Linked DNA regions of Homo sapiens: all the other regions are reported to be linked to region 3. The links are microRNA targets in miRTarBase. Many come from high-throughput screens and were not tested one by one. Region 3 holds a microRNA gene; each other region holds the end of a gene's coding sequence.

Region 1 (7,000 bases), not on the chromosome of region 3:
TAAAATAAAATAAACTGACTTCAGCAATATGGGCTCACAAAACCAGTCCACTGGGAGATGTAACTCCCAGTATGACTGGATTCAGGGCTCAGGTGACACCTCAGGCTTCAGTCTCTGCACTGGCTGGCGCTGCCTCCTGTGTGTTGATGTATTAGTCTGTTTTCACGCTGCTGATAAAGACATATCCGAGACTGGGTAATTTATACAGGAAAAAGGGTTTAATGGGACTTACAGTTCCACGTGGCTGGGGAGGCCACGTGGAACTCACAATCATGGCAGAAGGCAAGGAGGAGCAAGTCCTGTCTTACATGGATGGTAGCACGCAAAGAGAGAATGAGGAAGACGCAAAAGTAGAAACCCCTGATAAAACCATCAGATCTCATGAGACTTATTTACTACCACGAGAACAGTGTAGGAGAAAATGCCCCCATGATTCAATGATCTCCCGCTGGCTCCCTCCCACAACATGTGGAAATTATGGGAATACAATTCAAGATGAGATCTGGGTGGGGACGCAAAGCCAAACCATATCAGTTGGCTTTATTCTTCAACTCACATGGTGGCAGGTCGTTGCCCCAGCCTCACCTGTACACATTCTCAGGTTCAAGTGCAGCGGCATGGAAGACAGCACTTGTCTCTTTCCCCTCCCTGGCAGAAGCCCTCAGATCAGCTCTAGATAGATCCATTCTGCCCCAGTGCCCATTCCTGAGCCCCTCACTGTAGCCAGGGAAGTGAGATGTGCTGGTTACTTAAGCCTAAGTCACATGCCCATCCTGGGCCCTCCTGCTCCTGGGCTTTTCCTTCTTCAGGCCTCAGGGCAGCCTCACCCCCCACCCCAACCTCCAGGAAGACAGTGCCTAGTGGCCAGCAGGGCCTGCTGGTGAGGTGGATGGCTACAGGCTGAATCCAGCCTAGGATGTGCAGGGAGCTGGGGGCAGTCCCACCTACCCAGCATCCCAGGCCTCAAAGCCTGGAAGGGAGGGTCCACAGGGGGACATTCAGGACATGGCCTTCCCAGGGGAGCACAGGGCAGTGCTGATGGACAGAAACAAGGGGTGCCCACTGCAGCCTTGGAGGCCACATAAGGTTTCAGTACATGAAGAAGCAGGGAGGGCACTTCAGGCAGAGGCACCAGCCCATGCAAGGGCCTGGAGGTGGGAAAGTGCCTTGTGTGCACAAGCATGCGTGCATGCACCGCAGCTGGCCCATGGAGTGGCCCACACTGGGGAAGGGGAGGCTGTGATCAGGTAGGGCCATGTGTGGAGGCCTAAACATTGGCCAAGAAGTTTGGTCTTTGGTCTCTGGGCAGCAGGGAGCCCTTGAGGGCCCCAGAGGGGAAGAGTGGTATGATGAGACCTGTGCCGCCGGGTGCTCCTGGTCCTCCCAGGAAGTTTGCAGTGAGCTGAGTAAGAAGGGAATGAATTCTCTGGGCCTCACTCTTTCCAACCATCAATCCCTTCCCAGCCCGCCCATGCCCAGATGCCTCTGCCCTCTGCCCTGCTCTCCTCCCCTCCTGGAATGGCTGCCCACCCTCTGGAGACTTGTTATCACCCCTGAGTCCAGCCCTCACTTTGGGCATTGCCTGGCAGGAGGAGAGGGCTTCTGCCAGCCTTCTAGGGAGCCTCCCACACACACACCAATCCCAGCCAGAGCAATAAGCCAACCCCCAAGGGTGGTGGGAGGCTGGTCTGGAGAGGAGCTTTGGAGGGTGAGAAGACCTACCTCCAGTGAGCGACAGCACTGCCACGTATGGTCAGCTGGCCTGGGGAAGAAGGATGGCGTCACCCTAGGTCTCCAGGCTACTCCAGCTGCCTGCACCACCCCCTGGGGTGACCACTCTTGCCTGGACATGCAGCGCTGGTTACAAGCTCCTTCCTCCAGGGAGGACAACCCAAGAGCTGCCTGGGGCTGAGTCAGTGCCCCATCCTCACCACCTCCCAGCCCTGGGAGGGTCCTGTGGGAACTGGAGGGACAGAGTCTCCGGGGACCTTAAGCTTAGATCCCAAGCAAAGCCCGTGTTCCTGAATGCAGAGGGGACGTTTGTTTGACCTATCCAATATTTTATAAAGAATGACCATTAGTTGTGAAAGTTTAAAGATCAGGAGATTTTATTTAAAAGCTCAGATGTTCAATTTCTCATGAGAAATCAGAAGATCTGGTGTCTCTGGGCCCACATTCTGCCTGTCCGCTGTGGACTGGAGTGGAGGACAGCTGCCCTTCCAGCGGGGCCCATCCAGGTGTTTGACCCAGGTGCTATACCCGCCAGTCCCTGACAGCAGTTGGCTTTTTGCTCTTAGTACCTGTATCTGCATCCTAAATTTGCCACGACAAACTACCACAAACTTAAAACAGCAGAAGTGTATTCTCTCCTGGTTCTCAAGGCCAGAAGTTAGAAATTAAGGTGTCGGCAGGGTCACGCTTCCTCCAAAGGCTCTAGAGAGAATCAGTCCTTGACCGTCCCAGTTTCTGGAGTCGCTAGGCATTCGGTGGCTTGTGGCAGCATAACTCCAGCCTCTGCCTCCATCTGCATGTGGCCTCCTCCTCTCTGTCTCAAATGTCCCTCTGCCTTTCTCTTGTAAGGACACTTGCCATTGGGTTTATGGGCCACCCAGCTCACCCAGGATGATCACTTCTCAAGATCCTTAACGTAATTACATTTTCAAAGGCCCTTTTCCCAAATAAATTAATCTTCACAGGTTCCCAGGGGTTTAACATGGGTCTGTTTTTTTTGGGAGCCATCATTCAATCCACTTGAGTGCCTCAGTTACCTCCTCTGTAAAATGGGGATGACAGTAAAGTGTCTGCTTCATGGGGTTGCTGTGAGGACTGAATGGGTTAGAAGAATGGCTGGCACATGGTGTTATCTAAGTATTTGATACTGTTAGTGTTATTCCTAAGCTAAAAAGGAAGTCACCCCTTGCAAAGGCTAGGGCAGATGGGGCGGAACAGGGCACCTCTCTGGCCGGTGCCCGGGAGTGTGCAAAGTCACAGGAAGTGTGCCCCTCTCTCAGGCAGCTGCTAACACCTGTCTTCCTTCAACTCCCACAGACAACGGCCCTGTAGGGAAGCGACACACGGGCACAGCCACCGTGTTCGTCACTGTCCTGGATGTGAATGACAACCGGCCCATCTTTCTGCAGAGCAGCTATGAGGCCAGCGTCCCTGAGGACATCCCTGAAGGCCACAGCATCTTGCAGGCAGGTGGCCCGTGGCCTCTGGGGCAGGTGGTGGGCTGGGGGAGGCGGAGCCACACACGGCCCTGAGGGCACATGCTCAGTGGCACCAGAGGCGGAAGCAGGTGGGGGCCCAGGGTGGGTCCGCTGCTCTGGAAGGTGCTGTGGGGAAAGGGGGACCCAGGCCCTCTCCCATCCCAGGGAGTGTGGGCCCCCAGGTTGCAGAGCTGAGGATAGGGCTCTGGCTCCCCACAAACAGGAGGAAGACTTGGCCTCCCCCTGCATATCTCCCGCCCCACCCAGAAGGGCCTTTCAGAGTAGCGGGGAGAAAGAGACGTCACAATTTCCCGGAAAGGAGTTGAGAAGAGAGCCAGGGCCCAGCAAGGCCCAGAACAGAGCTGCTTTCACAGAGCCCTTGGCCGAGGCTCCCCTCTTGGGAAGTAAACAGGCACAAGAAGAAAGGGCTCCTTTGCCCAGGGAGCAGGCGCAACAGCTCCAAGGCTCAGAGGGAGAGAAGGGAGGACCCTGAAAACAATTTGGGTGTGCACCCACACCTCTGCCCAGAGGCCTCAGTTGCTGGGTGGGGAGGGAGGCCCGGAGTGAATGAGTCTCTTTACCAACTATGGGGTTTCCGACTCGGAGGCTGAGCCAAACAGGGAATCTGGGCCTGCCCACTGGGGCAGGCTCCCGGGCTTGGGAGGGACAGAAGCGTGGGAGGCTGGCAATGCTCCCCTCCCTGCATCGGGACCAGGAGGCGGGCAGGAAAGGGCTGGGGAGCAGGGAGCTGACTCCCAGAAACACAGAGAGCCCAGAAAGCCCTGAGGATTTGCGAGAGTGTGGTGGCTAGCTCCAGAAGGAGGAAGTAGAGGGTTCTCTCGATCAGGGCCTCAGCTTGTGAGGACTTGGAGCATACCCCCCTGGCCTGGTGCCTGAAACCCAATTGAGAGCCCTCCCCCTCCTGGACTTTTCCTTCTTCAGGCCTCAGGGCAGCCTCAACCCCCACCCCAACCTCCAGGAAGACAGTGCCTAGTGGCCAGCAGGGCCTGCTGGTGAGGTGGATGGCTACAGGCTGAATCCAGCCTAGGATTTGCAGGGAGGCCCCAGGGGAAGCAAACCAGGAAGAGGTTACTGAGCAGGAAGGGAGGAAGGAACAAAACCCTTAGGGAGGAGGCCTGCCCCACTTTCTAAACCCAAAGACTTGGTTTCTATTTACACAATACTACTCTTACTGAAATCCTAGAGCCAGCGAGTTAATATAGGGCAGCCCTGAGTTCTCCCATTTCTCAGGGAGAAATGCAGCGTCTCAGGATGACTTCTCCAAGGTCCTCTTGGTAAGTTTCTTGTGAAGCCGGACTCACTTTTTGAGATCAGATTGACTTGGAAGGAAGGGACAGTGGGCTTCTCCAATAGAGCCTGCTTGGAGAGAAATCTTTCTAGAGTCATCTGAGGGAAGATGAGGCTCTGTGTTATGCCAGCTTCCACCAAGACTCCTGCCTCAGAGGGTGGGGACACACCCAGGCTGGGCCACGCTTCACTCTGTACACAGAAGCCTCATACTTCTGTGCACAGAACTGGGGAGTCAAAGTGAGGGGCTGGACAATGTCTGGCTCTCTGCAAGCTCCCAAGCTGGTAGGAAAGAGAAGACATAGACAAAAAGGACCCATGCTGCCAAGAGAATGTTCCTTTTCCTCCCCAAGAGAGGTAGGAGACAGTAGGGGCGGCTCCAGGCAGGAGGGCTTCACAGAGTGGGTGTGTGTGAAGCATAAGCCACAGTTAGTGGGTGACAGGTCTTTCAGTTTTCCTGGAGTTTTGGATCAAGATGAGGCTAGAAAGATTAATTGGAGCCAGCTCCCAGAGGGCACTGCACACTGCGCTGAGGAGCTTTGGCTATATCCATTTGGCATTAGGGAGCCAGTGAAGGTTTTGGAGCTGGGGAGTGGCAAGCCAGAGCTCACTCCTTGGGGAGACGTGGCTGGCTGCACTGTGGGTCACAGCAGGATGGGGGTGGGGCAGCTTTGTGGTGGGATCCTGGCCAGCTGACTGGGACAGGAGCTGGGCAGCCCAGGTCCTCCCTCTGCCCACCCTTCAAATTTGGGACCTGACCAAAGTGTTTAACCCTCGCGTTGTGAGGAGAGGTCAAGGGTTTGGGATTCTGAGAAGCCCATCCTGGGGTGGGACTGCTTTGACGGGTCATCAGCAAAGCACTCACCAAAACCACAGATAGCATCCCTAGTGTGGGCAGGACTTGGGACCCCACAGCTGTCCTGGAGAGGTCCAGACCATCCCACCCTCGGGGAGGCTGCCGCTTTCCCTGGGTGAGGTGTGGAGCTGCTGTGAGCTGTCCTCCTCCGAGTCCAGGTGGCATCACCTCCAGCTGCTGGAAATGCCCTGCCTCTTGCCACTCTGTCACAGCACCCGCCCTGGCCTCTGAAGGGAGCCTCCTCGATCATCTTCAATCCCTTCCTGATTGATCCCAACGTGGGTGCCCTGAAGAGGGGCCACCAAGACGGCTGCCAAGACCATGCTTGGAGAGCCCTGTTTGCTCCTCCTCCCAGCTGGCACCCAGGCATCTGTTCCACCAGGAGGGAGGCAGCTGCTCCCACAGGGCACCAGGCAGATGCTGGCAGCACCCGGGAAACCCAAGGAAGAGAGCCCCGAGGTTTTGCCCCAGCACTGGGCCAGCACAGATGCCAGGACAGTGTCTTGGCCCCGGTGTAGGCTGAGCATTTCACTTGACTAAAGGGAACCTTTGCCATTTGGCAACTTCTCCATGCTGGGCTTTGGCACCTGGAGGGCAAGGCTTCTGTGGCGAGCGAGGGTGCTGCTTCTAGGAGGTGGTTACGAGCCCCAGGTTGTACCCTGTGGAGCCTCAGGCCAAAGGCCCAGATGACCACGAGTGCACATCTCTTGACCAGAAGTCTTTCATCAAGCAGCAGCGAGGGGGTCTGCAGAGAGGAAGGTGCTCTTCTGAGGATCATCTTTGGGAAAGGGCGCTGGCCTGGGCATGCAAGGAGCTTCGGGGGGTGAGTGTGTGTCCCAGACTGCTTGGGCCACTGTCTTCCTGCAGCCTGCAGCACCGGTCTCTGAAGCAGGAGGATCTACAGGTAGACCTAGGGGGATGTGGGGGCATGTTTGTGGACACCCCATTACATCTTGGTAGATTCCATGTAGTCACAGTGGCTGCGGTTGTCCTCGGGGCCCGGCAGGGGCTGTCGAGGGACGGTGGGCCGGCCATGGCGGAAGCTGTGCAGGGAGAGGCGCAAGGAGCCCAGGCGCTTCCAGAGCCGGAGCTGGGGCTCACTGGGGCTCCCAGGGTGGTGGGGCATGCACTCGTGAGCCCTGCGGCGGCTCGGGTCCAGCGCGGCCGGCTTGCAGAGCGTCATGAACAGCAGACAGGTGGCCAGCAGGAGGAAGATGCAGGCCAGGGCGATGAGCATGGGGAGGGGGTCAGTTGCCTCTGCAAGGGTCCCGGGAGTGACGGGAGCTGAGAGAAAGGCGAGGGGGCTGATGGCTGGGGAGCTGGCGAGGCTGGGGCCCTCTGTGCTCATGGCTCCTGCAACAGCAACAAGACAGAAGCTCAAAGGCAGATCAGCTGGACCCAGGGCAGCGGGTATAGGGAAGACTTACCTAGGGAATGTGGATGGGGGCAAGGCACTGTTAAACTGGACAGCATCATGGCCACATCACAGGTTAAGACAGCAAGGTCCAGAGACATCACAAGTCTAAGTGTACACACAGCTGAGCAGTGATGGAGCTGGGCCCAAGCTCAGGCCCTCTTCCTGTTCCACCCTGTGCCCATCTGCCATGCAGACAAGAGGGCGGTGGCC
Region 2 (7,532 bases), not on the chromosome of region 3:
TCTTGTCTATCCCCAAAATGGCGATAGTAACATCTGATTATTGTGACCTAAATGACTGATACAAAGTACCTAAAACGATGCTTGGTACATAGTAAGTGCTCAATATACAGCAGCTGCTATTAATAAAAGGAAGTCCAAATTCCACAAATCCAATTATAAAGAAAGCTTTCAACATCTCTTTTAGGAAATAAAGGCTTTGCAAATCTACAATCTAATCACATGTACTCTTCTAAAGAAAAACAATCATACCAAGAATAGGAATTTGCCAAAAAAGATGTAAGCAATACCAAATATTTTTAAAACCAAATTTTACGGTAACACAAAACAGAAATGGTGCCAAAAACCCCAGACCCTGGCCTGTTTAATAAATCTCTCTCCTATAAAGATGACATACTTATGGGATTACCATTTACACTAATAACAATTTAAAGGGCAGACACTGCTCACCTGCCAAGAAATGATTCTTTCAGGTTTTCCATCTTGAGTTGCGTCTGTGTGGTGTGACAGAGCACAGCACTGAGTGAGGGAGGACACTTCTGCTCACCCCCAGCCTCTGCCATCACCAAGCAGTGCGATTCTGAGCAAGCCGTCCTCTCCGGTACTCTGTCAAATGAGTTGTCTACAGTTTCCACAACTCCTTCCAGCTCTAAAACTCTACCACTATGAAGAATTTACAGTTCAATGTGTGTAATACTGGTGTGAGGAAGATGTATTACTTACATATCAGGTACCTTAACAACCTGAAATAGCATGCTGAATATCACAGTTGTTTTTTTTTGTGTGTGGTGGGGGGGACGGAGGATGAATCATACATTATATGGGTATACTTGTAATACTAAGATAAAAGCTACATTTTCACTGAGAAGGAAGTGTGAGACTAACCTAATACTTGGGGTCATAAAGTTGCACAGTACACACCATTTTCAAAGGTCCAACTACTGTTAGCAAATGCCAGTTTCTCAGTGGCTTCAAACATGTTTCAACTGGACCTATATTGGCAATGATGGTGGTGAATTTGGCTTAGTTTTATATACCATCATCACTCATTAACTTAATGAGGTAATATGTGGAGAAACAAATATTGCTGTTTTTATAGGTTTCTGCAAAGGCTGTTACCTACCTCTTTGACCTCCTATATTCAATGCTGTCTTTCTGCAAAGGCTGTTGCCTACCTCTTTGACCTCCTATATTCAATGCTGTCTACTACTCTGAGCTGCAAACTGAGAGACACCTCACAGCCACACAGGTTCTCACACAGCTTTCATCCAGTGGCAGAGCCGGGCAAACCTGGAAGCACATGTAAGGACCCCCCAACCCAGATTTCAGGGCTGAGGAAGCCCCTAGGGGAACTGGCATCTAGACTAAGGCCTGTAACGGTGACAACACACTACACATGCTGCACTCTGTTGATCCAGGGCATTGTCTCTGGTCAGTCAGGGTACTCTCCACTGTACTCCCCTCACACCGAGTTTACCTCTAACTATGGTGAACAAAAGTTGTGGCGCGCTGTAGACAGTCTGTTTTATCTGTTGTCTGGCATAACTATTAATAGTGCCCCCTTACATGCTCGAAAGTGCTTTGGTTAAGACCATCAATTATAGGGTTACCCTACCTTTAGACCTGATCCTGGCAGACTCCAGCTTGCTTGTTTGGCTCTCCCATGTGACTCAGCTTACTGGGGGCCGGGGGTCAATCTTATTCTCCTGTGTATCCATGGCATGGGCTGTATGTCATTCACATTTGTATCCATGACAGCCTTGTGCCTGATGCCAAACAGACTGAGCAACATAGGTTTTCAATATGATATTCAAAATTAGAATGAGAAGCAAATACAATTAACAACAAATTAGATCTGCAAATCATTATATCATGTTGGGATTCTGGATTTACCTTTCACTAGCTGTGCGACCTTCTGATTCTTAGGTTTTCACCTGTAAAATGGGGATAATAGTACCTTCTTCATAAAGTAGAGAAGTTTAAATGAGACACTATAGGTAAAGTGTTTTGCACATAGCTGGCATATATTGAGCACCGTTAACAGCAGCTGCCGCTGTGGACAATGATGACTGCTGCTGCCACAACCCTGTTTTGGTGTGAGAAAACTGACACCTAACAAGCATCCAGTAGAAACTCAGTAAGTGTGCACTAAAGGAATGCTTGGTCTCATGCTAGGTGCTGGCTTCACATCAGAATCTTGGGTTACGAGATGCATTAATCAAAATTACAATTTAGAAGTCAAAAGTTTTGACTCCTCTAAGTCCAGCTTTCATAACAATTCAAAAAAACCTCCTCATATCCATAAGAAGCATAGAACACAGCAGCACTATCTGGCTGCATCCTTAGATGTGTACCAACATTTAAACTTCACCTTTGTTATAACTATACTCTTACTCATATAAGAATGCCAACTTGGATATTTGGGTCCATCTCTTCTCTTTTTGAACTGTCAACCTCTCAAGTTGTATGTGATTAATGTATATAGAGAAAAGTAGAAAGGCCTCAGATTGAGTCAACAGTTTTCTTGATCCCTCAATTACAATATCCTCTTTAAAGTATATCCTTGTTGAACATTTGGAATGAATTAAGACTTTAAACTTCCAGATGTTTAAACTACTACTGTAAATTCAAACTCATTAAAAAGGAGCAGATTTACTACCTCTACATAGTTTTGAAGTCTGTTGTTCACCCTGTCCAAATAATTTATGAAACTAAATACAGTGGCAGGTAGTGTATTCTATTTACATAGTATTCATGGTGAGAAATAAGGGGCATTTTAAAAAGGTCTGGAAATTAACTGCCATTTGGCCAACCTATAGATCACACTTATTGTTACTTCTAAGCTAGGAATTGTTTCCTGAAACTGATCTTGTGGATATTTTTATGCTAATCTGTACTAAAAATTACTTTACTTTTTCTGGCCACAAAAAGCTGGCTACAGAGAAGCATTTGATTATGGCAAGACAGCTGCATCCACTCTCATGAAATAAATGGACCTGGATCTAGTCCTCTGTGGTAATGTCTTGGCAGCCAAACAAAGGTGGCAGCATTTCTACACCCAGTTTGTAAAGTCTCAGAAGTTTCAGGCTCCATTTTTTTTTTCTTTGCAAGAAACCCATGTCGACTATAATGAGTGCATTTTAGAGATGCTGTGCTGAAAGCTGGCAATGGATAAAGCAAGAACATAAAAGGAACCTATTCCTAAAGCAAATATTCCTTTTACAAACCTTAAGAATGAAGTGGCTTTCACAATCAATTTTAATATCGAAGCACTGGACTGAAGTACCTGCCTCTGGCACTTACTTGCCATTTAATTTGAGGCAATTAATTCATCTCTGTGAACATGATTTCTCAACTGATAAAAGGGGGTTAATACCTGTCTGAATTTTTCTGAGAACTTGAATGAGATCAAAGTGCTTTGTAAGCTCTAAAGTAACACTGCAAGTACAATTTTCCTGTTTTATGACTTACTTAAAATAGCACTTAAAAGTGGCTGCCCCTATCAAACAGAAATAAACCTGATCCAACTAAGTTACTGCAGAGGAACTGGTCTCAGAAGGAAGGCTCTTTCAACCCAACCAACTACTACTTACTTCGCAGGAATTATTCTAAGAATTAACTGAAAATTACATAGAATTATTAATAAAGTGTTTGTTCCCACTTACCTCACAGGTCACACATCCTACATCAGGCTTCAACTGTGTAACTTTTTTTTTCCAAAAAAAAGAGATATGTCAAAAGCAAAAATTCCTCTGATTAGATATGCTAAATCTTGAATGTCTTTCCTAGTACATTTGCAAACTATTTAGATATGATACAGATCTTATTTTTAAAAAACTGTACGAGGCTTTTGTGGATACTCTGTATGTTATTTTCCTTTCCTTTAATTTCAATAAATCGGATTTACTGAAGTCTATGAAGTTTGTGTGTGTGTAGTTATAAGTACGTACAATTGCATGTACTTATGGGCCAACTGTGGGCCAACTCTAGTCTGTAAGCTTGGTGAGTCAGAAAATGCACTGGGTATTGCCAGCACTTAGCCAAGGAGCCTGGCACACAGTAAGCATTCAACTTATATTTGTGGAATGGTCATGACACCTACCACTTTCTAAATTATCTCATCTTGCAAAAGACAACCTGTTTCATCAGTGCACTGATTCAACCTACCATCAAAGATCAGTTTGTTGAAAACATCTTTTAATAAATTAGGTTTTTAAGCTTTCAGTAGACTCCCAAATTAGAGAATATACATACATTATAAAAACAAATGATGGGCATCTTTAACTAATGCTTGTTGCATGAATGTTTTTGGATACATTATTGTGGCAGACTGAAAAGGGGGCCATTATTTTGTAGCTCCTCCCAACAAAAGGAGTCTATTTCCTCCTCCTTCGAATCTAGACTGGCCAAGTGACTTGCTTTGACTAAAAGAATGTGGTGAAAGTGATGCTCTGAATTACTGAGTCCAGGCTTTGAAGCCACTGCCTTTGCTTTCCTGGTACTCTTGAGACCACCATTACATAGCGCAAGATAAAAGACCACATGGAGAGGCCCAGTCATCATATTCAGTCCCCAGTCACCCTCCCAGCTGAATGCAGACAGCCCAGATGAGACTAGGAGAAGAACCACTCAACCAACCCACAGAACTGTGAGAAATGGTAAAGTATTTCTTTAAACCATTAAATTTGGGGGGAATGTTAAGCAGCAATAGGTCACCGATGATAAATTAATTAACCCTCATAGCACAACCTTAAGGTAGGTTGTACAGCTGAGGAAACTGACCCAGGTTAAGTAATCTGTCAAGGTCACACCACTCTTTTTTTCCGCCCCACACCACTCTTAAGCTCCCTAAGAACAGGATGAATGTATTGAAACACCAGCTTTGTGTTTCCTTCATTGTCATCCTGCCATCATGAACTTGATCAGTTCTTTCTGCCAAGGACAGAGACATCTCTTAGAGCCCTGGCTATAAGATAAACTCTTGTTATCTTTTTGATAAGCCGCATGCATAATGTGTCCTGATTTGACACATCTGTGGGCTTTCCTAGGACAGAGAAATGGACTGTGGGCTATCATTCTCAGCAGTTCAGCAAATACACACCACTCTGGTTTCTGAAGCTCAAGTAACACTTACTCCCAACATAAAATAATTCATTAACACCTCTGCATTCATTTTAGCCAGCAACAATAAGACAAACTCTGACAATTTACATCAGGGCCCACACAGTACATTTAAAAAAAAAAAAAAACCTAGTTGGGTGAATCTTACATTTAACACTTTCTTAATTGTTTTTTTTCTGTAACCCAAGTAGTAAACCACATACAAAAGACTCACCTTGAATTGTGAAGCTGTTTATCAAATGTTTAAGAGAATTTACACAAGAATGTTTTGACCCCACAAAAAATAATGTGCCTAAGCTTTAAACAAAATTCACATTTTATTTAGATTGAAATAAACTATACAAAATTGATTTTCTTCACCAAAAATAACAGCAATATTTTCCATATTTTTCTAGATAAACCACAACACTTATTTTGTAGGTTTTCCAGGTTTTGCTTATAAATCAAGATGAGGCAGTATATAAGAGTCATGGAAAAAGACAGAGAAAAAAAACAGACAAATCAGTTGTCAGTATCCATGGCCTCTGATTCTGTCTCAACCATGAAACAGAAGTGTTCAACATATACCTGCTAAAAAGCTTAGGAAGATGTAGGCTCCACAAAGGAATGTAAACAGCAACGAGATGTGGAACAACAGCAGGCTTTTCCATTCAAACTTTGTCATTTGTTTCTTTAAGTTCAAGAAAGACAAAATCTACACTGAAATCCTTGTTTGGTGAGCTCACAAGCTTTTCTCCGGTAATTTCTTGTAACTGTCCAGTATAGATTTTTAACATACTTAAAACTCCTATTAGTCAAAGGTCAATTGTGGGCTTCACTACAACATTTTATAAAATGTATTCCTTCCTCCCACACCTCTTCAAAATATATTTCTTCAAAGAATTCATAACACCCAACAAGTAGAGATCCACAGTGATAATAAATGCTATGTCTAAAATGACTTAACTGAAACAATTCCAGAGTGCCATCAACAGAGATCACGCAAAAGGAAACATGGCACTTTCAACGTTCTCTTCTGGAAGAACAGGTAGGTCTTCAAAGCTTGAGAGTTCAAACAGGGGCCATTTAAACAGGTAGATTATCAATGGCTAATGTATTCAATGGAGTCCTATAGGCAAAGATATTTAGTGATTAAGTGGTCTACATACACCTTACGGCTTTTTCTTCCAAATATCAAATATAAGAAAGCCTATTTTTAAAAGTCTCTTAGGTATTTTCCACAGTTTCGGAATTATCTGTAGGAAGCTCTGACTTACTTGTATAGAGTTTAATATATGTGTCCACCATTAAATCCAGGTCGTGTTTTATATCAAAATTTATGTTAAGCAAAGCCAAGTTACTTGACCTTTGGTCTGTCAAAGTGTTCCTCAAATATGCTTTAAGACGCTTTCGTCCATTTTCATACCGCTCATTCTCAACCTTCATCACAGGAAGAATACACAGGACCTTCAGCAATGCATACACATTAGGAAAAAACTTGATGTCAGGCAGGTGGAGGGCTTCATAGATGGTGGACGGAAGCTCTATATCTTTCCCCCTGTGTTTCCATTTGATTCTCCAACAATGAAGCTCAGCTGACAGCGTGTCAGGATTGGGTAAGTCACTTCTATACATGTCAGCATGGTGTTCCTCCGACGTATTGAATTTGAGTTGTCCCATGACTGAGGGTACCAGAGATAAGCATTTAAGAGCTTTGAGGTGCTGTTCTGAGAATATATCTTTAAGTTCCTGAATAATGTGCTCCACTGTTGGGACACTTAGGGTTTCTTTATAGTAACTCTCAGAGGTTAGCTGAGATTCCAAGTTACCCTGGTGAGCTCTGCGGAATTTCCCAGGGAGTTTCATTTGAATATCAAGTTTGGTTGCCAAATTTGTGGCTTCCTCAAACCAAAATTCATGATAAACTTCAATATTTTCCATCACTTCGTTGAGTGAATGCAGTACTGCAGTCAAGCTACCGGCCGCAAAGAAGACATCAGAGGTTTGCCCCTGGAGGTTTTTCCCAAAGGCTCTTGTAAAAGATAGGACATTTTTAAGAACAACAATAGTAACAATGAAATCAAAATCTGACACTGCACTGCAGAGTACAAATGCTCGGCCAGCTATATAGTTATTCCATCTAATATTTGTGTCACTATTTATACCATCTAAACATAAAACAAGTGCTTGCAGGAGTTCCACTAAAATTTCAAAAGCATCATGCCTGCCTGTCCACTGAGAATGGCAGATTTCCTTCAGTTCTTTACCCCTTTCTTTACTGTTCTGAAAAAGAACAGAAATTACGTTGTCAAGTTCTAAAAGCAGTTGTGGTGATCGATGGAAAAAAGAACAAACTTCCTCAATTGTTCCTAATGCAACAGATACTCCCATAACAGGTACTGATTTTGCCAACCACATATTTAAGGCACAGGAAG
Region 3 (7,532 bases):
CGAGGTCAGCAGATCGAGACCATCTGGCTAGCACAGTGAAACCCTTTCTCTACTAAAAATACAAAAAAATTTGGCCGGGCGTGGTGGCGGGCGCCTGTAGTCCCAGCTGTTCGGGAGGCTGAGGCGGTAGAATGGCGTGAACCCGAGATCGCGCCACTGCACTCCAGCCTGGGCGACAGAGCGAGACTCCATCTCACAAAACAAAACAAAACAACAACAACAACAACAACAAAAAAGCACCACAGACGCTTGGGTCACACCCCACCCCAAGATTCTGATTTAACTGGTCTGGGGTGGGGCCTGAACAGGAAGGTTTTTAAATCTCCCCAGGTGTTAGTAGTTTGTCGCTGAGACTGACAATTGCCGCTAAAGTGGAGTTACCTAAAGCTTCCAGCAGAGGACGCTGCCTCTCTGCTCATCCAGGGAAACGTGAGCCGGGAAACCTGACAGCTGCAGTTGCGATGGGTGGGGCTGGAAATCAGGCTGTTTCGTAAACCCGGTTGATGCAGTTAAGGCGACGGGCCAGATGCCGTGACCCTTGTATCGCCGAGGTTTTTGTGTTGAGACTCCAATAAAGTTACCTTAAAAAGTAGTAAGTTAGGGCCAGGCGCTGTGACTTACGCTGTAATTTCAGCATTTGGGGAAGCCAAGGTGGTAGGATCACCTGAGCCCAGGAGTTTAAGACCAGCCTGAGCAACACAGGGAGACTCCGTCTCTACAAAAAATACTGTAATTAGCCAGGGTGTGGTGGTGGGTGTCTGTAGTCTCATCTGATCGGGAGGCTGAGGGAGGAGAATTGCTTGAGCCCAGGAGGTTGGGGTTGCATTGAGCCGAGATCACACCACTGCACTCTAGACTGGGTGACAAAGCCAGACCCCATTTCAATAAATAAATAAATAAATAAAAACAGTAGTAAATTGTCTATTTTGCTGAGTGACCAAGAGATAAGTCACAACCTCTGCAGGCCCTGATTTCAGCATTTTTAAAGTGGGGAGGGACTTGGTCTATATTCATTCTTTCAATATATATTGAGTCCCCTGAAATGGGCAAGATACTGATCTGGAAGGGGAAGGATACATATTTAAATAGGATTAAATTCCTACATGATAGGGGAGACTAATAGAAAGATGGTGGTTTCCATTTTTTCCTATTTCAGGATGGCAGATTTGTGGGTGCACAAGGCTGGTGAAGAGGACAACCATGAAAACTATGAAAGAAAAGGCAGAAGAGACCAATATTGGGTATATACCCATGCTATTTTATATTATGACACTTCACTTGCCTACTTATCGTAATAACCTAGCAAGGTAGATGTGATCAATTCTGTTTCACAGTTGAGGAATCTGAGACTCAGAGATGTTAAGTGACTGACTCAAAGTCACACAGCTCGTAAGCAGTGGAGCCAAGATTGAAACTGGCACATGTTTGACTTCAGAGCCAGGACTCCCCCCACCACTTAACAAAGGCTGTCATATCCATCCCTCAAATCAGGAATGCACCCCACATCCCCCCCCGAGATGCTTGTTTCACTGAGACACAATCTCTCCCCGTTCCATCTCCAAACCAGCCCCAGAGGCTGAGGGCTGCCCAGGAGAGACTCAACTCCCCTCCTCTCCTGTTCTCCAGCTCTGCCCTTCCTGCCCAATCTGGGCTTCTCTCCCGCTGTGAAGGACAGATACCTGCTGAGTGACACCAATTTGCAGACTTCTGAAGTGTAAATGAGATTTCTAATAGGACTGGCTTCCCACTGGCTTCAGGCAGGGTTAGGAGTAAAGGGAAATTTAAGACTGGAAGTGCAGAAGAAGAGAGCCAGTTTGTAGGATAGGGAGCAGCAGAAGCAGAGGCAGCCAAAGTCTCTGGGTAGAAGTGAAGGGCTGACTTGGTTCAGAGAGGTCAAGTGCCTTGCCAGAGGTCACACAGCTAGCAACCGGAAGAGGTAGAATGAGCTCAGCTAATGGTTGCATTTTTAGCATTCCCTAAATGAGTACGATCCCCAACCCCCAACTTTAGTTTGTAATATGCTTTAGTCTCCTCTGCTGTATGGATGGAGGAGGGTGGGAATATACTTAGGAATAGGGAGGGCATTTGGATTTGTTGCTTGAAAATTAATCTCCACTGAAAGTGTCATCACTGTAACTTGGTGCTCACCTTAGGGCAAGGTACCCCCCAGGCAGAGGGATCCCAGGCAGAAAGGCTGGGAGGCCAGGCAAGGTGGCTGATGCCTATACTCCCAGCACTTTGGGAGACCGAGGTGGGCAGATCCCCTGACGTCACGAGTTCGAGACCAGCCTGACCAACATAGCAAACCCCTCTCTCTACCAAAAATACAAAAAATTAGCTGAGTTGGTGGCATTCACCTGTAATCCCAGCTAGTCGGGAGGCTGAGGCACAAGAATCACTTGAACCCAGGAGGTGGAGGTTGCAGTGAGTCAGGACTGTACCACTGCACTCCAGCCTGGGACAGAGTGAGACTCTGTCTCAAAAATAAATAAATAAATAAATAAATAAATAAATAAATAAATAAATAAAAGGCTGGGAAATGCTTTTTCTGATCACTAATTCTAATTGTATTCCTGCCACAGTGGGGGATGGTCCCCAAGCACTGGGCTTTTTTCCCTTGGCCACACCTCTGGATGTAGCAGCACAGAGGCAGGTACTGGGACCAAGAAATTCCATACACACAAGTCCACTCCCTCAGCTGTGGAGCAGGCACCAGACAAGCTCCGAGGTCAGGTGTGTCCCCCCTGCTGCCAGGTACACTGAACATCCGGGAACCTCGGTCTCCAGTGCATACCTCTCGGTGCCCGCATACACTGTGGCTGTCGGGCCACAGACAATGAGGCCCTGAGCCCCAGGATGTGGAGTCACAAGGTGCCTCCATTATAGGTGCCCCAAAGTGATTGTTGGGGGAATTAGTAATTAAGGAGGGTTTTTCTCCCCCTGCCCTTCAGGTAGTGGTATGGAAGCAGTCCACTGCTCCCTGAAAACAGAGACCCTGCCCCACTTCCCTGCTCACACCATAGTTTGTCCATGTTTCTGGAAGAGTCTGCCGATGGGTGTTTAGGGTGGTGACCTGAGATGTTTTCTAGGAAACACAAAAGATACAAAAAAGAACACGTGGAAGGATAGCCAAAAAGGGGGGCTGCCCCCATTTCCTGCACCCCGCTGCGATGGCTGGCACCATTAGGTAGACTGGGATTTGTTGTTGAGCGCAGTAAGACAACAACAAAATCACTAGTCTTCCAGATGGGGCCAGCCGGTCCACTCTGTATCCAGGCCAGTTCTGCAAGGCGTTCGAGGACCACCCCCCTCCCCTCGCCACCAGGTCAGCGGTCTGGATGCTCCTTCAGGCGAGGCGTTGTCTCCGCTCCTATTACTAAGTTCATCTTTGAACACCTCTCCTCACCTCAGAATTCCCTGGAGAAATTATTTTTTCTTACTTTTCCCTTTTTTCTGGAGTGTTCTACTTTCTATAATGGACACAGTTGTTTTGTTTTGTTTTGGTGAGACAGGGTCTTGCTCTGTCACCCAGGCTGTAGTGCAGTGGTGCAATCACAGCTCACTCCAGCTTCAACCTTCCAGACTCGAGTGTTCAAGTGATTCTTCCACCTCAGCCTCCCTAGTAGCTGAGACTACAGCTAATTTTTTTTTTTTTTTTTTTTTTTTTAGTAAAGACAAGGTCTCAGTATATTGCCCAGGCTGGTCTTGAACTCCTGGGCTCAAGTGATCCTCCTGCCTCAGCCTCTCAAAGTGCTGGGATTATAGACGTGAGCCACTGCACCCAATTTGAGCATATTTCCTTTACAAACAGGGGAATTATTTTTAAAGAGAAGCAGGCAAGTGGCTCATTTCTCTCTTTCCTTTACTAATCATAAAGCATTGAACCACCATGCAGAAGAGAAACTAGAGCTTGGAAATGGTGACCCCTCTCTACTGGTGCCTCCCCCTTCTGGAAGCCTATGGGCATGGCCCATGGTGAAAATTCTTCCTGTGGTTACTGAGCCCTGGAAGCTTCAGAATGAAGTCAGAGTGGTGGTGCTGGGGTAAGCAGAGCAGGAAGAGGAAAAGGGGAAATGGTTGTGGACAGGAGGCTGGTGGAATCCTGGCCCAGTCATCCCCTCCCTGCAGGCACAGCGCTGGGCTCCCTGGTTAATTTCCCTTGCAGTGTGGCACTGGTGGAGGAGAGGCAAAGCCCCTGCTGCCTGGGCCAGCCTCTAATTGCGCTGGCAGGACACATCCGCTCCTTAATTAGCAAAAGCCACAATATCCTGGCGGCTCAGAGAGCATGGCCCTAATTGTATTTCTGCAGCAACTGAAGGATAATTACCCTTCCCTATTGGTGCTGCTTTTAATTCTTTCTCTTTTTAATTGTGAGCACTTCCTCTTTAGCCCACCCTTCCATCCTTGGGTTTATTCTCTCTATCCAGAATGGGGGTGGGGGCTTGCCTGGTGATGGAGACGCTCAGGAGCAGGAGGAGTGGGGGGAGTCATGGAGAAGACTGGCAATACCTAGCTCTGAGTCCCAGCCCCTTCCAGCTGTCAGCCTGAGACAGGGCACATCTCTGCCATGGGTCTGAGAAAAACCAAGAAGTTCTTTTGTGGAAGATGTAAGGGAGAGGTGTTCCTCCCCCAGAGGCTCTTTATGACCCTCTTCAGTCTACCCCGCAGTGAGGTGCTGGCTCTGAAATTCCCAGCTGTAGAAAACTGAGACCTCCTTTCCCCATCCTTTAATCTATCAAGAAACAGAGATGGATGTGTGGTCTTTAATTTCTTTTACAAAAAAAAAAAAAAAATAGCCCCGTGCCTCTTTGCCACTGTTGAGAGGAGGGTTAGTCCTTCAACCTTGAATTGTTTTAGAGACAAGGACCTGAGGGTACCATTAGAGAACAATGCTAACTAAGGTAACCCCTTGGTTAATAGGAGAGCTTAGCACCCTAGGTATTTCTAGGAAAAACAGGCCTTTCTTAGGGACCTGGCAAATAAACTTTGAGAAGTAATAGACAAGCTAAAATGCACCACAAAGAGAGTTTGGAGAGAACCACAGCATCTCTCTGGATGTCAGCTTGCAGGACTGACTGATCTAGCTTACATGAGCAACCCTGGCCCTAAAGCCACCACCCAAACCACTGCCCTGCTAGAAGCTCACTATGAGAGCAGGGACTCTCACTCATTATTCTTCCAAGTGCCTCGCGCACAGCCTGGCCCGTGATAAATGAAACTGGTTGGCAAAGAAGCAGAGTTCAGAGACAGAGTAGGATTGTGAGGTGTGAACAGGGTAAATCCATTTTCATTGGCTTTTTCCTTACAGATCCAATGAAGATGAATTTGAACTGATTGTGGCCCTAGTTTTCAAAATTCTTTAATTCTGGGCTCTATCTGAATTGGGAGAAGATGCAAGCAATAAAAGAGGCTGCTGTAGTCTCAAAGAAATATATTTTGAAAAAATGACCTGCCCTTGAGCCCACCAACTTCCACTCCCCACTTCTAATTTCTTTCCTCTGAATTTAGAGCTGTTCCCTTAGCAACGCTTGTTTCCATGGTTTCCTCCATGACAATGATCCCAAACCCCTCCTCTCTTTTACCTCATGACAGTAATGGATGATGGGGATCCTCAATGTGGCCACTCCATGTTACCATGGTAACAATTAACTGAGCCTTAATTTATCTTTTGTGAAGAGGGCTAGGGAATATGAAGCTTTTGATTTGGAGGGGGAGGGTCCAGGTCTAGAGCTACCATTCTCATAAAGAAGAAGATAAGCTATTTGTCTTAATACTAGCCAGTAGGATTTAGTTCAAACATTTGTTCAGCCCTACTTTAAGCACAACTGAGTTTGAGGGAATCAAAGGGGTACAAGACATAGCTCCTAATATTGAAGGGCTAATAGTCTAGCACTAGGGCTCATGGTACCGCTGAACTCTGGCACAGATGGGGCCAATAAAGAATATGGCTCTTGATAGCACCGTGATGATCAGGCATCTATCCATTCCCAGTATCCCCTCCTGCCAAGAACCAAAAAAAGACTGACTGAAGTGGTCTGTACTCACATTAAGACTTCTTCCGGGCTGTTATCAGAGAGTTTCTGTCCTGAAAGGGAAAGAACTTTGACTTCCCCTCTTTTAGGGAAGTGGGGACCAATGCCAGCATCCCTGAGTAGGACTATTTGGTGCAGGAAAAAAGAGAAAAATAAACAGACCTGCCCATTGCCAGTGCAACAAAGGACTGGGATAATCTCCAGTTCCAGGATAACCATCACCTACCTGCAACAAGTCTTCCTGGGAAGCGATGAGTCAGCTCTTACATTGAATTAAAGAGTCATTGTCTCCATCCATTCAGCTTTTCTATTTGTCACTGAAAATTCAGGCCAAAAGCGCAGCTCTGAAGAATGAAAGTGGAAAAACAGACAAATAAAAATCAAAGTGAAGAGGACACCAAACACCAAACACAAAACACCAAAGCTGAGAGCTGAGTAGAGTGAATCCACAAGCTGAGATATCCATTCTGCATCACAAGCAATGCAGTTCTTCCGACTTCTAGCTTTCCATCTTCATCTCCAAAAGTTTTCACCAAATCTCTAATAATGAGGACCAATTATCTATTTTTAGGGGAAATCACAAAATTCTCTGGACCCTCAGTGTGCTGGTAACAATAACCTGCACTGACTTGGAAAGATGATCACAGTATCTCCTAAAATGAAGGGGGAAAAAAGCCATAGGACAATGTATAAGGCAGGTATGTTGAAGTAAGCTGCGAATAGGTAGGTAAAAAATGTCATCCTTGCAAGTCAGTGCAATCTGGATTAGCCAAAGTCAATTCCAGATCCTGAGTCCAGGACTCTGAGTTCTGTCCTTTGCTACTGGATGGAACTAAGGCAGATTCAATCCTTCTGTGTACCCTGCTCACTCAGCTAGTCAGAAAAGGATAAATGGCATCCTCTTATTGGTTGACAAGGCAATACACACCAACCAATGAAAGAATGCTTCTTCCTTTCCAGCCAATAAGAGCTCAGTTATCTTCTTGAAAGTAGACCCTTTGTCCATAAAGAAAATAAGCAGAAAGTGAATAATAATTAAAAAAAACCACACAACTGTTGCTATGGGACATTACTGATGTGATCAATGATAGCTGCCCCGGACAATTCATAAAGGAAAGCACTTCTTTGGGAAGAAAAGTACAAAAAGCAGACCAGCTGTCTGGTCTGGTCTAAAGGGAAGTTTCTATAGTAACATGGGAGAGAAAAGCATTTTAAAAGCATTTTAATGTAAATACCCGCAAAACTATCAAGTCAGTTCACCGAGCGAATTTTTGACCTTTTAAACTTATGCTGAAATTATAATGAATAAAAATTCTTATATTAATAATAAATGAAGGAAATGGAGAGAAAAGAAGAGAACAAGAGGAGAAAAGAAAAGACCTGTGTGTTTATGGTTCAGGGCATCACAGATAAAGATATCACAGTTCCTGCCTGAAACAGAAATGTTCTCCAACCCCGTGTTGTCAAGTAATATCTCAGTTTAAAACAAACTTCTTTTTG
Region 4 (7,490 bases), not on the chromosome of region 3:
TCCTGGACCCCCCCACCCCCAACCCAATTAGAAACAGCAGCCCAGGAGGCTCTGCGCCCGCTTGCTCAATGACCTGTCCTCCCTCTGCACTTTTCCAGGGGGACAAGGCTGGCTGTGGGGAGGCTGCAGTGACAATGTGGGCTTCGGAGAGGCGATTTCCAAGCAGTTTGTCGATGCCCTGGAAACAGGACAGGATGCACGGGCAGCCATGAACCTGCACAACAACGAGGCTGGCCGCAAGGTGAGTCCCGCAGCCCTTGGAAATAGGCAGCTGCTGGCTATATCCACTACCAGCTCCAGGTGCGGACAACTCTTCAGTTCATTTAAAAGATTGGCAAAATGAGGTACCAAGTGGGCTGGCCCAGTAGACTAACTAGACTTCTCGCAACTCCCACAGGGGCAGTTAAACTCGCCACGCGCTTAATCCGGGGCCTCTCACTCCTAGCTCTCTCCCCAGGCGGTGAAGGGCACCATGAAACGCACGTGCAAGTGCCACGGCGTGTCTGGCAGCTGCACCACGCAGACCTGTTGGCTGCAGCTGCCCGAGTTCCGCGAGGTGGGCGCGCACCTGAAGGAGAAGTACCACGCAGCACTCAAGGTGGACCTGCTGCAGGGTGCTGGCAACAGCGCGGCCGGCCGCGGCGCCATCGCCGACACCTTTCGCTCCATCTCTACCCGGGAGCTGGTGCACCTGGAGGACTCCCCGGACTACTGCCTGGAGAACAAAACGCTAGGGCTGCTGGGCACCGAAGGCCGAGAGTGCCTAAGGCGCGGGCGGGCCCTGGGTCGCTGGGAACGCCGCAGCTGCCGCCGGCTCTGCGGGGACTGCGGGCTGGCGGTGGAGGAGCGCCGGGCCGAGACCGTGTCCAGCTGCAACTGCAAGTTCCACTGGTGCTGCGCAGTCCGCTGCGAGCAGTGCCGCCGGAGGGTCACCAAGTACTTCTGTAGCCGCGCAGAGCGGCCGCGGGGGGGCGCTGCGCACAAACCCGGGAGAAAACCCTAAGGGTTTCCTCTGCCCCCTCCTTTTCCCACTGGTTCTTGGCTTCCTTTAGAGACCCCGGTAATTGTGGAACCTAGGGAATGGGGAACCCGCTCTCCCAGACCTAGGGATCCTGAGAGGGAGAGACTGCAATTTCTCCAAAGCTTGCCACTTTCCAGCCTGTTTCCCCAATTCCTCTGTGCTCTCCTAGAGCTCTGTCTGAATCCTCGCAGCCACACCTAGGTCTGAGAACTCAGGCTTTGAGTTACTGATCTTCCTTGGATTAGGAGAACAGGTGTTCCTCCTCCCCTCTCCTAGCAGCCCTAATGTCTGACCTAGCCTATCAAGCCTTAGGCGCTGGAAGAACCCTTCTCAGACACGCAGGACCCAGGTAAAGTCAAAGCTTTGCCCTTTTGCCCACTGTCTGCTACCAGGGCTCACCCACTGCTGCACCTCTCTTCTGCACAGCTCCTCCCCTGCTACCTGCTGAGCCAGATTCCCCAGGAATCTTGAATGCTTTCTCTCCTCTTCTCCCTTTCCTTTCCCAGAAAAACTGAGGAAACTGGCCCCGGAAAAGCATGTCTTTGGGGTTGGTTCCTAGAGGCAGAGGTTGAAGATGGAAGAGGGAGCTCTGGAGTGCTAACTTGAACACCAAGGGTGCTACTCATCCCTATGGTATCATATCATGAATGGACTTTACTAGTGGGGCAATGACTTTCCTAGACAATAACCCGAGGGACTCCAGATACATACCCCGAAGGTCTAGGAAATACGTTAAGGGCAGATTACAGTCATTTCCTACCCTTTAAAGGTAACTTCTCCCTTCTCCTGACCTACTTCCTCCTAGCAACCAACTTTACCTCTTCTTCTCCAAAGGATCTTTGTTCCTCTGAGCCAAGACTGAGGTAAATAAAGCCACTTTCCTCTTCAGATCCTGGTCTGCACCTCTAGAGGCAGGTCCTAAGAAGGAGAAACTGAGACCCTTCCTTCTCACTAACCTGGTTCTCAAACAGGCAGGATTCAGAGCACTGGATATCTTCCTTCAATGAGTAAACTTCCTGCAATGAAACTGTTGCTTAGTAGGAAGTTCAGCACCTTGAACCTTAATTTATTGCAGTCATTGTGATATGTGCTCTTTTTCTAGGTACTGCACTTATTCTTGAGGATATTCGGGTGGGCTGTGGTAACAGATACAACCTGTAGGCTCTCTCCTCCCTCCCATCTTGGCAGGATACCATCCTCCCTAAAGCCTCACTTCCCTGGTGGCCCAAGCAGTTATCTGGATTGAGGCTAAGCTGCCAAGGATTAGTAAATCATCTATTTAAATCTTCTAATACATTCACTCAAGAGCCATGAGCTTGCTGCTTGTGGTACTTGAGTCTTCTGGTTTTATTCTCAGAGAGTACAGCAGGGACTTGTTTATGAAACAGAGCAAGACCTTGGGGAGGGAAGAACCAATCCCTGACAGACCCTCTGTAGCCCAAGGGGCTTCCCAGCCAGCTTCCTTGCCCTAGGACAGTCCCAGGTCTGGGGCTGGGCAGCTCTTCTAGAGCAGAACTGGTCAGATGCTAGACGACCTCAACCTTCCTCTCCCAGAGTAGGAAAAGCAGTGTGGCTGGCTCCAGGCAACAAAAGCCAAGACTCTAGGGGTTCACCTGTAAGAGTCAAGGGTTCCCGTATTCCAAACTAAGGCAATGGCCAGGTCAGATCCCAAACCCTTGGCCTCACCCACACACCTTCTGGTCTTACCAACACTTACTGAGGAGAGAGTTTCCCCTTCCTGACCGGGGATACACTTCCTTTCAGGTGTTCTTAGTGCTTCATTTCCAGCTTTCTCAGCAAAAGGCCCTTCACGCCTTCCCTCTGCTTTTATCTGAACCTCCTGAATCTCCCAACTCACCTTTTCTCCTTAATCAAGAAGCAGCATATACTAACCTACCTGTCCCACTTTGCAGAATTACTTTATAATGTACACGAAGAAAGTTTGGCAAGGCAGCTAGAAAATTTAAAAGCACAATGTTGTAAAGTAAAGCTACATTCTCCAGGTCTCTTAGCATAAAAGCAGAACTATTGTGCTTCATATTTGGTAACTCCAGGTCAGCACTCTAAATACGTCATGCCGCCAGAACATTATTTCATAGGTTATTGTTTTATACCCCCAAATGGATACCAGATTCATTCCAGTTCTACCAAGAAAACATGACTGAGATGCCTTGGATCTGTATTGCTTTTCCCTTCCTTTTGCAATATCCACTTGTTCATTTGTTCATTCAACAAACACCAGAGTAGAGATAGTGGTGAACAACCACCATTGCTGCATCACGGAGTTTAAGTTCTCATCTTACACTCAATTGCCAGGGCCGTGGTCCCTTTACAAAGTAGACAACTCCAGAACTGGTGCTTGGGAAGACATCTTTGAGGTCAGCCAGTCAAACCTTTTGTGTTACAGATTTAAACTGATGCTGAGAAAGATGACTGGCTTCTTCCCCCAACTAGTAAGTTACTGTGGGGAGAGTGCAGAGCACAGGCCCCTTCCACCTCTTGTGTGCTCTTCAGGAGCCCATCTGTCTCAGCCAGAAGACAGAAACAGAGGGAGGCCCTGAGAAGTGACAAGGACATTGGTTGGGGTGGGCAAAACACTGTCTCCTTCCTGTCCCTGGCCTGTGAGCCTAAACACAGGCAGAGCTTTTTCTTTTTGAAAAGAATCGCAGCCTCAACTGGCCTTAGCAGCAGGTTAGGGCAAAGACAGAGACGGGGTCGTCTTCGGCGCTGGTGGTGCTGGCGGTGGTGGGAGGGGAGGGCAGGCCAGGGCACTCGCCTATTGTAGGTCTGGATTGGATGCTTCCACTCATTCATTTCCTTTTAATTAACCCGCATTCCTGGAGGAGAAATATTTATGTTGGCTCCCATAGAGGCAATCCTCAGACTGGAAAGAAGGGGGAAGAAAGCCTGTCTTAGCAAAACAATATCTCTAAAGAGCTCAAGAAGAGAAAATAGGAGAACAAAATGCCATTAAAATAGCCTTCTACCCCCACTGGAGTCAATGAAAACTTCATTTCACATGCTAATCCGCCACTCCGCCCCCTTGTCTTCTCACAACACCTTTTCCGAAAGTGTTTGGGAAAAGTCTTCGCAGTCAGTACACAGCTCCCTGCAGCTCAGACTTCTCCTTGTGTTAGTTCAGGGCCCCAAGTGGGGCTCTCGCTCCAGCAGCGGCTTTTTTCTCCCCCACTTTAATTTAAACAAAGACTTCGGAGTTCATCAACCTCCCACTGAAATTCACAGCTGCTGAACAAACTAATCCCCTCTCCCGGCCTTTCTTCCCTTCAATGGGCTCTTGGCTTCAAAGACACTTTGGGAAAGGACTTTGCTAGGGCTCACACTGCTTCATCAATAGAAGTTAGTGCAAGTATTATCTGAAGAGCAAGTGGCTTTACAAACAAATACTGCCTAACAATCCCTCCCTCCCAAACACACACACATCTAGCCCGCAGACATGATGGGATCTACAACAGGATTAGGGCTAGCATCCCCTGGCTTCACACCCAGTCCCTTTGTATAGCTGAGCTCAGCCCTGAAGTGGGGTAGGGAAAACCCTGGAACTGAACACCAGGCACGGATGAAGGGAGACAATCCCCCCACCCTCAACACACCCAGCAGAGTGACCACAAATGCTGCAAGGAGAGAACCTAATTCAGTGGGAATGGACACCTTCCTTTAACTTTCTTGATTTATCTCTCCCTAAGCCTCTCCCCTGCCTTACTAGGGTGCAGGAAGCAAGAATAAAGAGGACTAGAAAGGTAATGGCAAAATAGAACCCAGAGGAGGCAATGACTGGGAGATGACAGAGGAAACCAAATCGAAGCAGCTTTATTGCACCATTAAGTACATCACTGCATCAAAGACAGTGCCACAAATGCAAATCCAATCGGAGAAGGTAGCCCTGAGACATGTGGTGGCTGCGAGGGAGAAGGACCCCCAACCCTTGAGGAGCAGCGCTGGAAGAGAATCATTCCTTAATATGGCTCCAATTCCAGAACTGGGCTTTATCATCACAGAAGGAATGGCCTTGGGCTAAGGCTCCAACATAGGTGGAGTCAAGGGCAGTTCCCCATAGGCTGTGGTTCCCCTGCTCCTGTCTCACAGCCTAAGACAGCTTCCAGCAAAAGGCAGTTCATCCCTTTCACCTTCCATCCAACCTAGCCCACCCTTAATAATGCCGGCAGATGAGAAATTCCATTTTAACAGCGCCAAAGTTTCCTCTCTTGGTTCTGCTCAGCACCCATCCCTCACGTCCATGAGTTGTTCAAAGGGTGAACAGCAGTCAGCTCTACCCCAGACCCTGGGCTACAGAGAAATACGGACCTGGAAATACCAAGTCAGAGGCAGGGAAAAGGTAAGGGCAGGCTCATAAACCACAGAAGGGAGAAACAAAAGACCCACATGATGGGTCACAGCAGAGGTAGGCTTAAAAGTAACAATCCTGTTCACCCTCTCAGAAGCCACTTAAATAGAAGATCCCTGGGGGAGAAGATATCCTGCCCCAGGTCCTTACAGAGTGTAGTATTAGGGAGAGTGAAGAACTGATTCTATGCCCTGCCTCCAGGCCTGAGAGTGTCTTGGACAGATCCTAGAAGGCCAGACATAAAGGAGTAAAAAGCAGGCACTCAGCTGGTTTGGAGCCAAGCCTACAGCATCACATACCTGGCAGCAAGGAAAAGAGTCGGGAAAAAGAAACAGAATCTGTTGCAGAAGTCCCCTCTTCTGCAGGGAGGAGTTATGTAACAGCAGAAGTGGCCTCCTAGCAAGAGAGGCTGCCTGGTTTAGACCAGCAGCTTATGAGCGATGATGAGGACAGCCTTCAGGATAGGCATGAAGCTGGACACCTCGCTGAAGCTGCTACAGCCCGCCACCTGGGCATGCACTGCAAGGCCCTGCTCAAAGCTTCCTGCATCCACACATCGGGCAACCTCATGGAGCCCAGCCACGACATGAGGTGAGAGCTGTGGAGGGAATGACCCTTAGGTTAGTGAGCCCAACCCAGCTCCTACCCTGGCAGCATGGAAGGGATAAGGGAAGACTTAAGTTCTGGGGCCCAGTCCAGGCAAGATGCACGTATTTTGTGGGGAACCCAGGTCAGTGACACCTATGGGAAGAAAAGACACTGGGCTTCCTTTGGCCATGGTGATGGTGGAAGTGTAGGAGGCAGTGGGAGCACAGCTAGCTGTACTTACTGTCCCCTCACAGAGCTTCTCATATAGATACTCCAGACGCTGGGCTGCCTCTTCCAGCTTCCTTTTTGTCTTCTGCAGGGAAAGAAATGGATTCCAACCCCAGCCCCTAAGTCTAACACCACACAGGGCCATAAAGAATCACAGCATATTAGGCCGGGCATGGTGGCTCACGCCTGTAATCCCAGCACCTTGGGAGGCCAAGGCGGGTGGATCATGAGGTCAGGAGATGGAGACCATCCTGGCTGACACGGTGAAACCCCGTCTCCATTAAAAATACAAAAAATTAGCCGGGTATGGAGGTGGGCACCTGTAGTCCCAGCTACTCGGGAGGCTGAGGCGGGAGAATGGCTTGAACCCGGGAGGCAGAGCTTGCAGTGAGCCGAGATCGCGCCACTGCACTCCAGCCTGGGCGACAAAGCGAGACTCCATCTCAAAAAAAAAAAAAAAAAAAAATCACAGCATATTAGAGCTAGAATGGCTTCATTTCACAGAGGAGGGAATGAAGGCCCAAGAAGGGTAAGTGACTTGCTCAAGCCGACACAGCCAGCAGGGGAATGGCAGACTTCCTCACTCCTGGCTCCACCCTCCTTCCAGTACCCCTGCTGCCTTTAGGTCTCAATGCTGCTGGGTCCTACCACCAAGGAGCTGGACTTCAGACCAGACTCAAAAGTCTCTCCCCAGCTCCACATGGACGTCAATTAAGTACAAGATAGAGACAGCATGTCCAGGGGCAGTGAGAAGAGAGTCACACAAGGAACTGGTCCACAGCTGAGGGGTCCTGGAGCCAGCGAGGGGTGCGAGGAGGGCACTGTGAAGAAGGTTCAGACTTACTAAGTCAGTTGCAGACAGGGAGCAGCGTTGGAGAAGCGCCTCAAAGCTGCTCTTCAAGGACTGATGCTCTGGGGGCAGCTCCTTCCTTTCCATCTTCTCAGGTGGCAGGTGCTGAAGCTGCTGATAAAGAAGCAGGGAGAAAGGCCAGAGGGGCAAGCTGTCCTTCTCATGGCTTCCCTAAGGACTAGTCCCCAGTGACTCACAGTCACACTGTTCCCATTACAGCAGAGTTGGGGAGATGAGCAGCCTCCCTTTCTCTGCAGTAAGGACACCTGGTACCTGCCCCCAGTCTCCCTCAGCACATGCCTTGAGGAATGAGGCCCATCTACCATGACCTGCACCCAAGGAGGGCTGGAAGGTTTCCCAAGGGAGGGGAATACATTGTCCTTGTCACCTGCAGGCTGAGTTCTCCTGGAACTCCTGGGGGAGCATGACTCACACTGGAG

Evidence for each region. The annotated mature microRNA hsa-miR-7-5p reads UGGAAGACUAGUGAUUUUGUUGUU and lies in region 3 at 3,222-3,245, opposite strand. An mRNA with a match to its seed (bases 2 to 7 or 8) in the 3' UTR can be bound and repressed. Matches are read on the target gene's strand: a 7mer-m8 pairs with bases 2 to 8, a 7mer-A1 pairs with bases 2 to 7 and ends in A, and an 8mer does both.
Region 1: the mRNA of C10orf105 is a reported target of hsa-miR-7-5p. Seed matches in the 3' UTR shown: 7mer-m8 at 4,188-4,194 and 7mer-m8 at 3,435-3,441.
Region 2: the mRNA of THAP12 is a reported target of hsa-miR-7-5p. Seed matches in the 3' UTR shown: 7mer-A1 at 6,135-6,141.
Region 4: miRTarBase lists WNT8B as a target of hsa-miR-7-5p. The part of its 3' UTR that is shown has no 7-base or 8-base seed match.

Annotation. Positions count from the first base shown.
Region 1 is chr10:71,709,617-71,716,616 of GRCh38, forward strand. C10orf105 (chromosome 10 open reading frame 105) reads right to left here. Exons shown (of 2, transcript NM_001164375.3): 2 at 2,085-6,726. The coding sequence starts at 6,721. The coding sequence ends at 6,320. It overlaps CDH23 (cadherin related 23), which reads left to right. Exons shown (of 70, transcript NM_022124.6): 28 at 3,049-3,197. Among named protein-coding and RNA genes, the nearest start is that of C10orf105, 6.7 kb to the right of the region's middle.
Region 2 is chr11:76,344,540-76,352,071 of GRCh38, forward strand. THAP12 (THAP domain containing 12) reads right to left here. Exons shown (of 5, transcript NM_004705.4): 5 at 5,417-7,532. The coding sequence ends at 6,325. Among named protein-coding and RNA genes, the nearest start is that of THAP12, 33 kb to the right of the region's middle.
Region 3 is chr15:88,607,569-88,615,100 of GRCh38, reverse strand. It overlaps MIR7-2 (microRNA 7-2), which reads right to left and starts at 3,276; the gene lies at 3,167-3,276. MIR1179 (microRNA 1179) reads right to left here and starts at 6,994; the gene lies at 6,904-6,994. It overlaps MIR3529 (microRNA 3529), which reads left to right and starts at 3,177; the gene lies at 3,177-3,254. It also overlaps a transcript of AEN not described here. RefSeq lists an enhancer at 1,383-2,067.
Region 4 is chr10:100,481,814-100,489,303 of GRCh38, forward strand. WNT8B (Wnt family member 8B) reads left to right here. Exons shown (of 6, transcript NM_003393.4): 5 at 99-241; 6 at 458-1,931. The coding sequence ends at 1,003. It overlaps SEC31B (SEC31 homolog B, COPII component), which reads right to left. Exons shown (of 26, transcript NM_015490.4): 23 at 7,439-7,490; 24 at 7,045-7,161; 25 at 6,214-6,285; 26 at 4,834-5,982. The coding sequence ends at 5,803. Among named protein-coding and RNA genes, the nearest start is that of WNT8B, 23 kb to the left of the region's middle. RefSeq lists enhancers at 471-1,126, 3,147-3,923, 3,272-4,764, 3,924-4,699.